Homo sapiens: one gene and its partner. The protein of the gene in region 2 interacts with the protein of the main gene of each other region in a biochemical or structural test. Each region holds a gene or a part of one and is shown on either strand. Other genes may lie near its edges.

Evidence for each region.
Region 1: of the proteins of RPS6KB1 (region 2) and NR1I2, one has a biochemical effect on the other in vitro, tested with the Homo sapiens proteins (one study listed by BioGRID).

The regions. Positions count from the first base shown.
Region 1 is NC_000003.12:119,788,534-119,792,189, reverse strand, and holds part of NR1I2 (nuclear receptor subfamily 1 group I member 2), read right to left. Parts: intron 1-3,656. UniProt on the Homo sapiens protein: Nuclear receptor that binds and is activated by variety of endogenous and xenobiotic compounds.
Region 2 is NC_000017.11:59,934,535-59,938,190, reverse strand, and holds part of RPS6KB1 (ribosomal protein S6 kinase beta-1), read right to left. Parts: intron 2,999-3,656; coding exon 2,891-2,998; intron 1,977-2,890; coding exon 1,914-1,976; intron 1,728-1,913; coding exon 1,650-1,727; intron 614-1,649; coding exon of another isoform or gene 565-613; exon of another isoform or gene 417-564; intron 1-416. UniProt on the Homo sapiens protein: Serine/threonine-protein kinase that acts downstream of mTOR signaling in response to growth factors and nutrients to promote cell proliferation, cell growth and cell cycle progression.

The DNA.
Region 1 (3,656 bases), on a different chromosome or scaffold from region 2:
TAGTGATGGATGGCAGCACACGCTCATCATAGTCTTCTCCGATCCTGGTGAAGATGCGAGGAAGCTGGCTAGTGACAGGCCCAAAGAGGATGCACGGAATGATATTGACATTCTGTAAATCTTTGCTACCAGTGATGACTGGCACATTATGTGGTTGAGAACGGTGGTCAAAGATAATTGGTTTCTGTACCCATGGTATGAGAAAGTGAGTCCCTTACCCTACCACAATGTCCTGTACTCCACAGAATCGGTCAAAGATGACAGTTCTGTGCCCAGCATCCATGTTATATAAGGCAGAGTTCACCATGCCTTCTGCAACAGCTAAGGCCAGTCCAAACTTGCCGATGGACTCAAACACTTGGCAGCTATGTTTTCTTCTGTTGAACCCTCTCACACCTGTTTCCACTCTGAACTCCACATCTAATTTTTGTATTTTTAGTAGAGATGGGGTTTCACCATGTTGGCCAGGCTGGTCTCAAACTCCTGACCTCAAGTGATCCGCCCGCCTCAGCCTCCCAAAGTGCTGGGATTACAGTTGTGAGCCACTGAGCCCGGCCTAGAGGTCATATTTCAACATGAGATTTGGAAGGGATAAAACATCCAAACCATATCACTGATTTTGACAAGAGACCCATCAAGTAACTTTTTTTTAGGACAGGGATGATCAAAGAATGCTTTTGATAGAAAATGGTATTACTTCCTTCCTCCATCAGAAGAAGACAGGTGTGTCACATGAGCTGTCAACATTGGTGAAGCAATCACACAAGGGGACAAATGGTGTTACATAGGAGTGTTCACAGCCTCCCACCTCTCCTTGTACAGGAGACTCTCATAGATGTTAATCTAGCCTGACATTGCAGGAGGAGGCCACTCTGGAGGCCAAGCCCACCCCAAACCTGCTCTCAGAGAAGCTCCTGGTGCCCAAGCAAAGGTCCATAGGCCTTCTGGGGCCTATGAGGGATGGTGTAATTGCTCTGTCCCAGGGACAAGTAATTCCCTGGCCCATTTAGATCCTCTTCTAGTGAGTCTGGATGTCAGACATACAGACAGAGCTAAGTTATAAGGTCTGCTGGCTGGACTGCTGCCCAGGGGGCTGCCATATTCAAAGACACCAAAACATTATTGGAATGAATCAGAAATCAGGTGAATTTTAGATTGCCTCCTTTCCTACCAAAGCAGTCATCACCCTGAGGTGGAGACTTAAAACACTCCTTGACAATGCAGACTAGTATCTGTACGGTGCTCAGGGACACTCACATGCCTGTCACACAGGGCCACTCCAGCCAACCCAACCCTGAGGACAGCCCATTGAAGTTGGCAGACAGAGCCAGAAATGGAAAAATATGTGGTGTAGGGCTGTTTGCAAGGAAGAAATGTACTGTTTTATTATGTGAACACTTAAACATGCCTTCCAAGAAGTTGTGTGGTTTGGAAAATTACACAGAATAAATTATTTATTTTGACCATAAAGAACATAGTACACATTTAAAAGAACATCACTTGCCAACAAGCACATGAAAAAGTACTCAACATCGTTAATCATAAGGCAAATGCAAAGGGAAACCATAATGAAACATCACTTTATATTCAGGATGGCCGCTATCACATAAACAGAAAATAACAAGTGTTGGCAAGGCTGTAGACAAATGGGAACCTTGGACTCAGGTGGTAGGAATGTAAAAATGGTGTAGCCATTATAGATAACAATATGGCAATTTCTCAGAAAATTGAAATAGAATTATCATATAATTCAGCAACCATTTCTGGATGTATATCCAAAAAGAACTGAAATCGGGGTCTTGAAGAGATATTTGTACACTGATGTTCACAGCAGCACTATTCGCAATAGACAAAATGTAGAAGCAACCCAAATTTCATCAACTGATGAATGGATAAACAAAACATGGGACATACTACAATAGAATATGAGTCAGCCTTAAAAAAAAGGAAATTCTAACACATGCTACAATACGGATGAACCTTGAGGACATTATGCTAAGTGAAATAAGCCAGTCACAGAAAGACAAATATGAGGTATAGTAGTCAAGCTCATGGAAGCAGAAAGTAGAATGGTGGTTGCCAGGGGCTGTGGGGTGAGGGGAATGGGAGTTGTTTAATGGGTAGAGTTTCCATCTTAAAAGATGAAAAACCTCTGGAGATTGGCTGCACAACGATGAAAACATACTTCACATTATTGAGCTATACACTTAGAAATGCTTAAGATGGTAAAATTTGTTATTTGAATTTTACCAGAACTAATTAATTTTTCAATCCTGCTCCTTCTGTATATTTTACAAATTAAAAAAAGAACATCACCAAATAAATGTTGATCAAATATTTAAATAATATTTAAATTGAATTTAAATTGAAAAGGAAGCCAAAATAGTAGACTGGTTGGGGTGCCTCAGTCCTGCCCTGTGCATGGCAGCCACAGTGCACTCAGAGAGAAGGCAGGACAGGGAAGCTGTGAAGCAGGAAGGGCCCCGAGGAAACAGAAGTTGTGAGGAGGAGAAGCAGCAGAAAGAAAGGAAACAAAGGAAAGTAACATCAATAGTTGATATGGTTTGGCTGTGTCCCCACCAAAATCTCATCTGGAATTGTAGCTTGCATAATGCTACATATGTGGGAGGGACCTGGTGGAAGGTAATTGAATCATGGGGGCGGTTCCCCCAATACTGTTCTCATGGCAGTGAATAAGTCTCATGAGATCTGATGGTTTTATAAGGGGAAACCCCTTTCGCTTGGTTCTCATTCTCTCTCTTGCCTGACACCATGTAAGACATGCCGTTTGCCTTCCACCATGTTTGTGAGGCCTCCCCAGCCACATGGAACTGTGAGTCCATTGAACCTTTTTTTCTTTGTAATTTACCCAGTCTCAGGTATGTCTTTATCAGCAATGTGAACATGGACTAATACAGTAGTTAAAAGCACTACAATCAGGAAGAAAAAGATAACCATGTCAATTAAAGTGCATTTGATCCCAACCTGAGTTCTGAACTACATTTTAATCTCTAGGAGGTCAGGGCCCTGGCAATTGAGATTTTTGCCTTCCTTCTCTCCCATGCCTGCTTCAGAAGTGCCCCCGTTTAAGGTAACCTGGAGCCTGTGCTTACAATCTAAGAGAGTGATGCTCCAGCTTTCAAGTACATACAGATCACCCAGGAGCTTATGAAAATGCAAATTCCCATTCAGTAGGTCTGTGGTGGGTCTGAGCTTCAGCATCTCACAAGCTCCCAGGTGAGCTGATGCTATGGGTCTGCAGTCCACACTTGCAGTAGTAGCAGGGAAATCCAACTAACCAGACAGAAAATTGGCAGTACACAAACAGACTGGCATGGAGAAGATGATCTTGTCAATAAAAACAACTTTATGGTGCTAGGAAATAAAATAAATAATCAAAGAGATATGTGAAATGACTCACATTATAAATTGTTGTTTAAAGTCAATATACAGGCCGGGCACAGTGCCTCACACCTGTAATCCCAGCACTTAGGGAAGCTGAAACAGGAGGATCATTTGAGGCCAGGAGTTCGAGACAAGTCTGGGCAATACAGTGAGATGCCATCTCTACAAAAAAATAAAAAATTAGCCAAGTGTGGTGACATGTGCCTGTAGTCCCAGCTACTTGGGAGGCTGAGGCAGGAAGAACACTTGAG
Region 2 (3,656 bases):
CCCCCCAAAAAAAAAAAAAAGAAAGAAAAGAAAAAGGAAAAAAAAAAAAAAACAACTAAGGAAACTGTCAACTTCTGAGGTGTGATGATGGGATGGCAGTTATGTTTAAACAAGATGACCTAATCATTTTTTAAGCTGGGCAGTAGGTATATGACAGTTAACTTCCTTACAATTGTTTGTTGTTTTTTAAAGTGGGGACATTATGCTCCATGACCAAAAAATAATCACCATCATCATCCTCCTCCTTCTCCAACTACATCCTAAGGAATGGAAAAAGAAACTGTATTTTCTCAGATTCTGAGGTGGGAGAAGGACAATAACTAACACACTAACTGATTTACTCACAAACATATTGTTATGGGTTGAATCGTGTGCCTTACCCACCCCCAAAAAATTTCGTACATTGAAATTCTAACCTCTAGTTCCTCAGAATGTGACCTTATTTGGAAAGGGTTATTGCAGATGTAATTAGTGAAGATGAGGTCCTACTGGAGTAGAGAGGAACCCTAATCCAATATGCCTGGTATCCTTATAAAAAGGGGAAATTTGGCCACAGATATGCACACAGGTAGAACACCATGTGAACATGAAGGCAGAGATCCGGGTGATGCACCTACAAGCCAAAGAATGACAAAGATTACCAGCAAACCACCAGAAGCCAGGGGAGAGGCATGGAACATACAGTTTCTCACAGTAGTCAAAGAAACCAACTCTAACAATGTGATCTAGAACTTCTAGTCTCCAGATCTATGAGATAATAAATTTCTGTTGTCTAAGCCACCCGGTTTGTGGTACTTTGTTGCAGCAAGCCTAGCAAACGAATGCACACATATTCTATACTTTGAAGAAAAAATTCCCAGAGAATCATATTTAAAATGGTTAAATTAAGCAAAATAAAACAAACCAAAAAAAGGAAAGTCCCAACTACCTGAAATATTTGTCTTAGGTAACTGACTTAAAAATAGCTAATACAGTCAATTGCCACTGGGTTTAGTTCTTTACAAGATAGTACAAAAATAAAAGATGCTTGGCTGGGTGCAGAAGCTCACACCTGTAATCCCAGCACTTTGAGAGGCTGAGGTGGGTGGATCACTTGAGCCCAGGAGTTCAAGACCAGTCTGGGTGACATGGCAAAACCCTATTTCTATAAAAAATACAAAAAAATTAGCTAGGCATGGTGACACGTGTCTGTAGTCGTAGCTATTTGGGAAGCTGAGGTGGGAGAATCACCTGAGCCTGGGGAGGTCAAGGCTGCATTGAACTGTGATCGTGCTGCTGCACTCCATCCTGGGTGACAGAGTGAGACCCCATCTCAAAATAAAATAAAATAAAGATGCTGGAGAGGATAGACCAGAGATCTTTGAACTGCTAATAAAAATAATGTTTCTGTCTGCTCTGAGATTTTTCTTATTCTAAAAAAATATCAAGCGATCCTCCTGCCTCAGCCTTGCAAGTAGCTGGGACTTACAGGCACAAGCCGCCACACCCAGCTAACTTTTAAATGTTTTGTAGATATGGAGTCTTGTTATGTTGCCCATGCTGGTCTTGAACTCCTGGCCTCAAACAATCCTCCCACCTTGGCCCTTTAAAGTTTGGGGATTACAGGCGTGAGCCACTGCACCCAATTATACACTTTCATGTATACTTACCAACAGAGGTTTAAAGGGGGGCTCCACCTTTCGAGCCAGAAGTTCTTCCCAGTTAATGTGTCTAAAGAATGGATGAGCCTAGGAAAAAAAAAGCAGGAAGAAAAGTTGAGGGGACTAGACTTTGCTGGATTGATAAATTAATCACCTTTTTGAAGTTACAAGTCACAAAATAAGCTAAACTTATAAGCAACTACATATAACCCTCAGAAATACATAAAACTAGCATTATCTTCCCCACAAAACACCAAAGATGCCAATCCCTACTTGAACTTCTCCAGCGTCCCCAGGACCAGCTCCCAGACGAGAAGCAGCATTTCTTTTCAGCAGCTTTAAAGAGGAAAAAAAGCTTGGATAAAGAACCTTAGTCAAACTGATTTTTTTTTTTCCTTTTTAGACTGTGCTTGTCTACTTTGGCTTGAGAAAATATAGTTTATTGGCCAGGCACAGTGGCTCATGCCTGTAATCCCAGCACTTTGGGAGGCTGAGGCAGGTGGATCACCTGAGGTTGGGAGTTCGAGGTTGGCCAACATGGTGAAACCCCTTCTCTACTAAAAATACAAAAATTAGCCTGGCGTGGTGGTGAACACCTGTAATCCCAGCTACTAGGGAGACTGAGGCAGGAGAATCACTTGAACCTGGGAGGTGGAGGTTGCAGTGAGAGCCAAGATCATGCCATTGCACTCCAGCCTGGACGACAGAGCAAGACTCCATCTCAGAAAAAAAAGAAAAGAAAAGAAAAGAAAATATAGTTTACTAATTACTACTTAATATTGTTTAAGGGTCTGTAATCCCAGCACTTAGCACTTTGGGAGGCCAGGGCAGGTGGATCACCTGAGGTCAGGAGTTCCAGACCAGACTGACCAACACGGTGAAACCCTGTCTCTACTAAAAATACAAAAATTAGCCGGGCGTGGTGGCGGGTGCCTGTAATCCCAGCTACTTGAGAGGCTGAGGCGGAAGAATCGCTTGAACCTGGGAGACTGAGGTTGCAGTGAGCCAAGATCGCACCACTGCACTCTAGCCTGGGTGACAGGGCAAGACCCTGTCTCAAAAAAAAAAAATTTAAAAAAAGAATATGAAAAGAAAGTCTTTAAACAAATCTGTACTTCGCCTTCAAAAATTGAAGACTTTTTTGTTCAATATTTATATATGACTCTTTATTCAAAATATACATTAAATTCTATCTAGTTAAATCCTAGTCATTGAATCTTGTAGTGTCAGTGACCATTTAAGAACCTTACCTTTTTAAGCAGATCTCTGGCTTCTTGTGTGAGGTAGGGAGGCAAATTGAGTTTACATTTGAGGATTTTGTCAATTGTTTTCTTTCTATTCTCCCCAGTGAATGGGGGCTAAGAGTAGAAGACAAGTGAAAAATATTAGCAGGGAGAGAAAAATATTAGCATATAAGAAACAAATTTTGAATAATATTATCCATTTCCTAAATTAGTTATACATGGAGATCAGAAATGTATGCTGTGAAATGGGCTAACTGCTAAAGACCTTTATTTTGTTTTACAGACAGGGTCTCAACTATGTTGTCAAGGCTAGATTCTATTAATAATCCTTAGCTCAAATGATCCTCCCACCTCAGCCTCCTGAGTAGCTTAGGCTACAGGCATGCACCACTGTGGCCGGCAGACGTGCAGTTTTTAAGCAACAGGACAGAGGAAGTAGCAGTGTCCTGGAAGGAAGCCTGTGTTTCCACCATTAACTTTCTGTGTGATAAGTGAGCTATGTGATTTTATGCTTCAATTTCTCCATTTATAAAATAAGGGCATTATCTATTCAACATCTATTTCACAGGCCTGCCATGACATAGATCATTTAAAAGAAAATGTTTCGGAAAGTATGGGATCCCATATAATCATACAGCATTATTAGTGTTAAACTGCTAATAACAAATCTTTGGGCTTTGAAAACTCCACTGGTAACATGTTCAGAAAGCACAGGACAGGTCTCTTGCTATAGTGACTCAGCACAGACCAATAATACATGCAGCTTTTAACT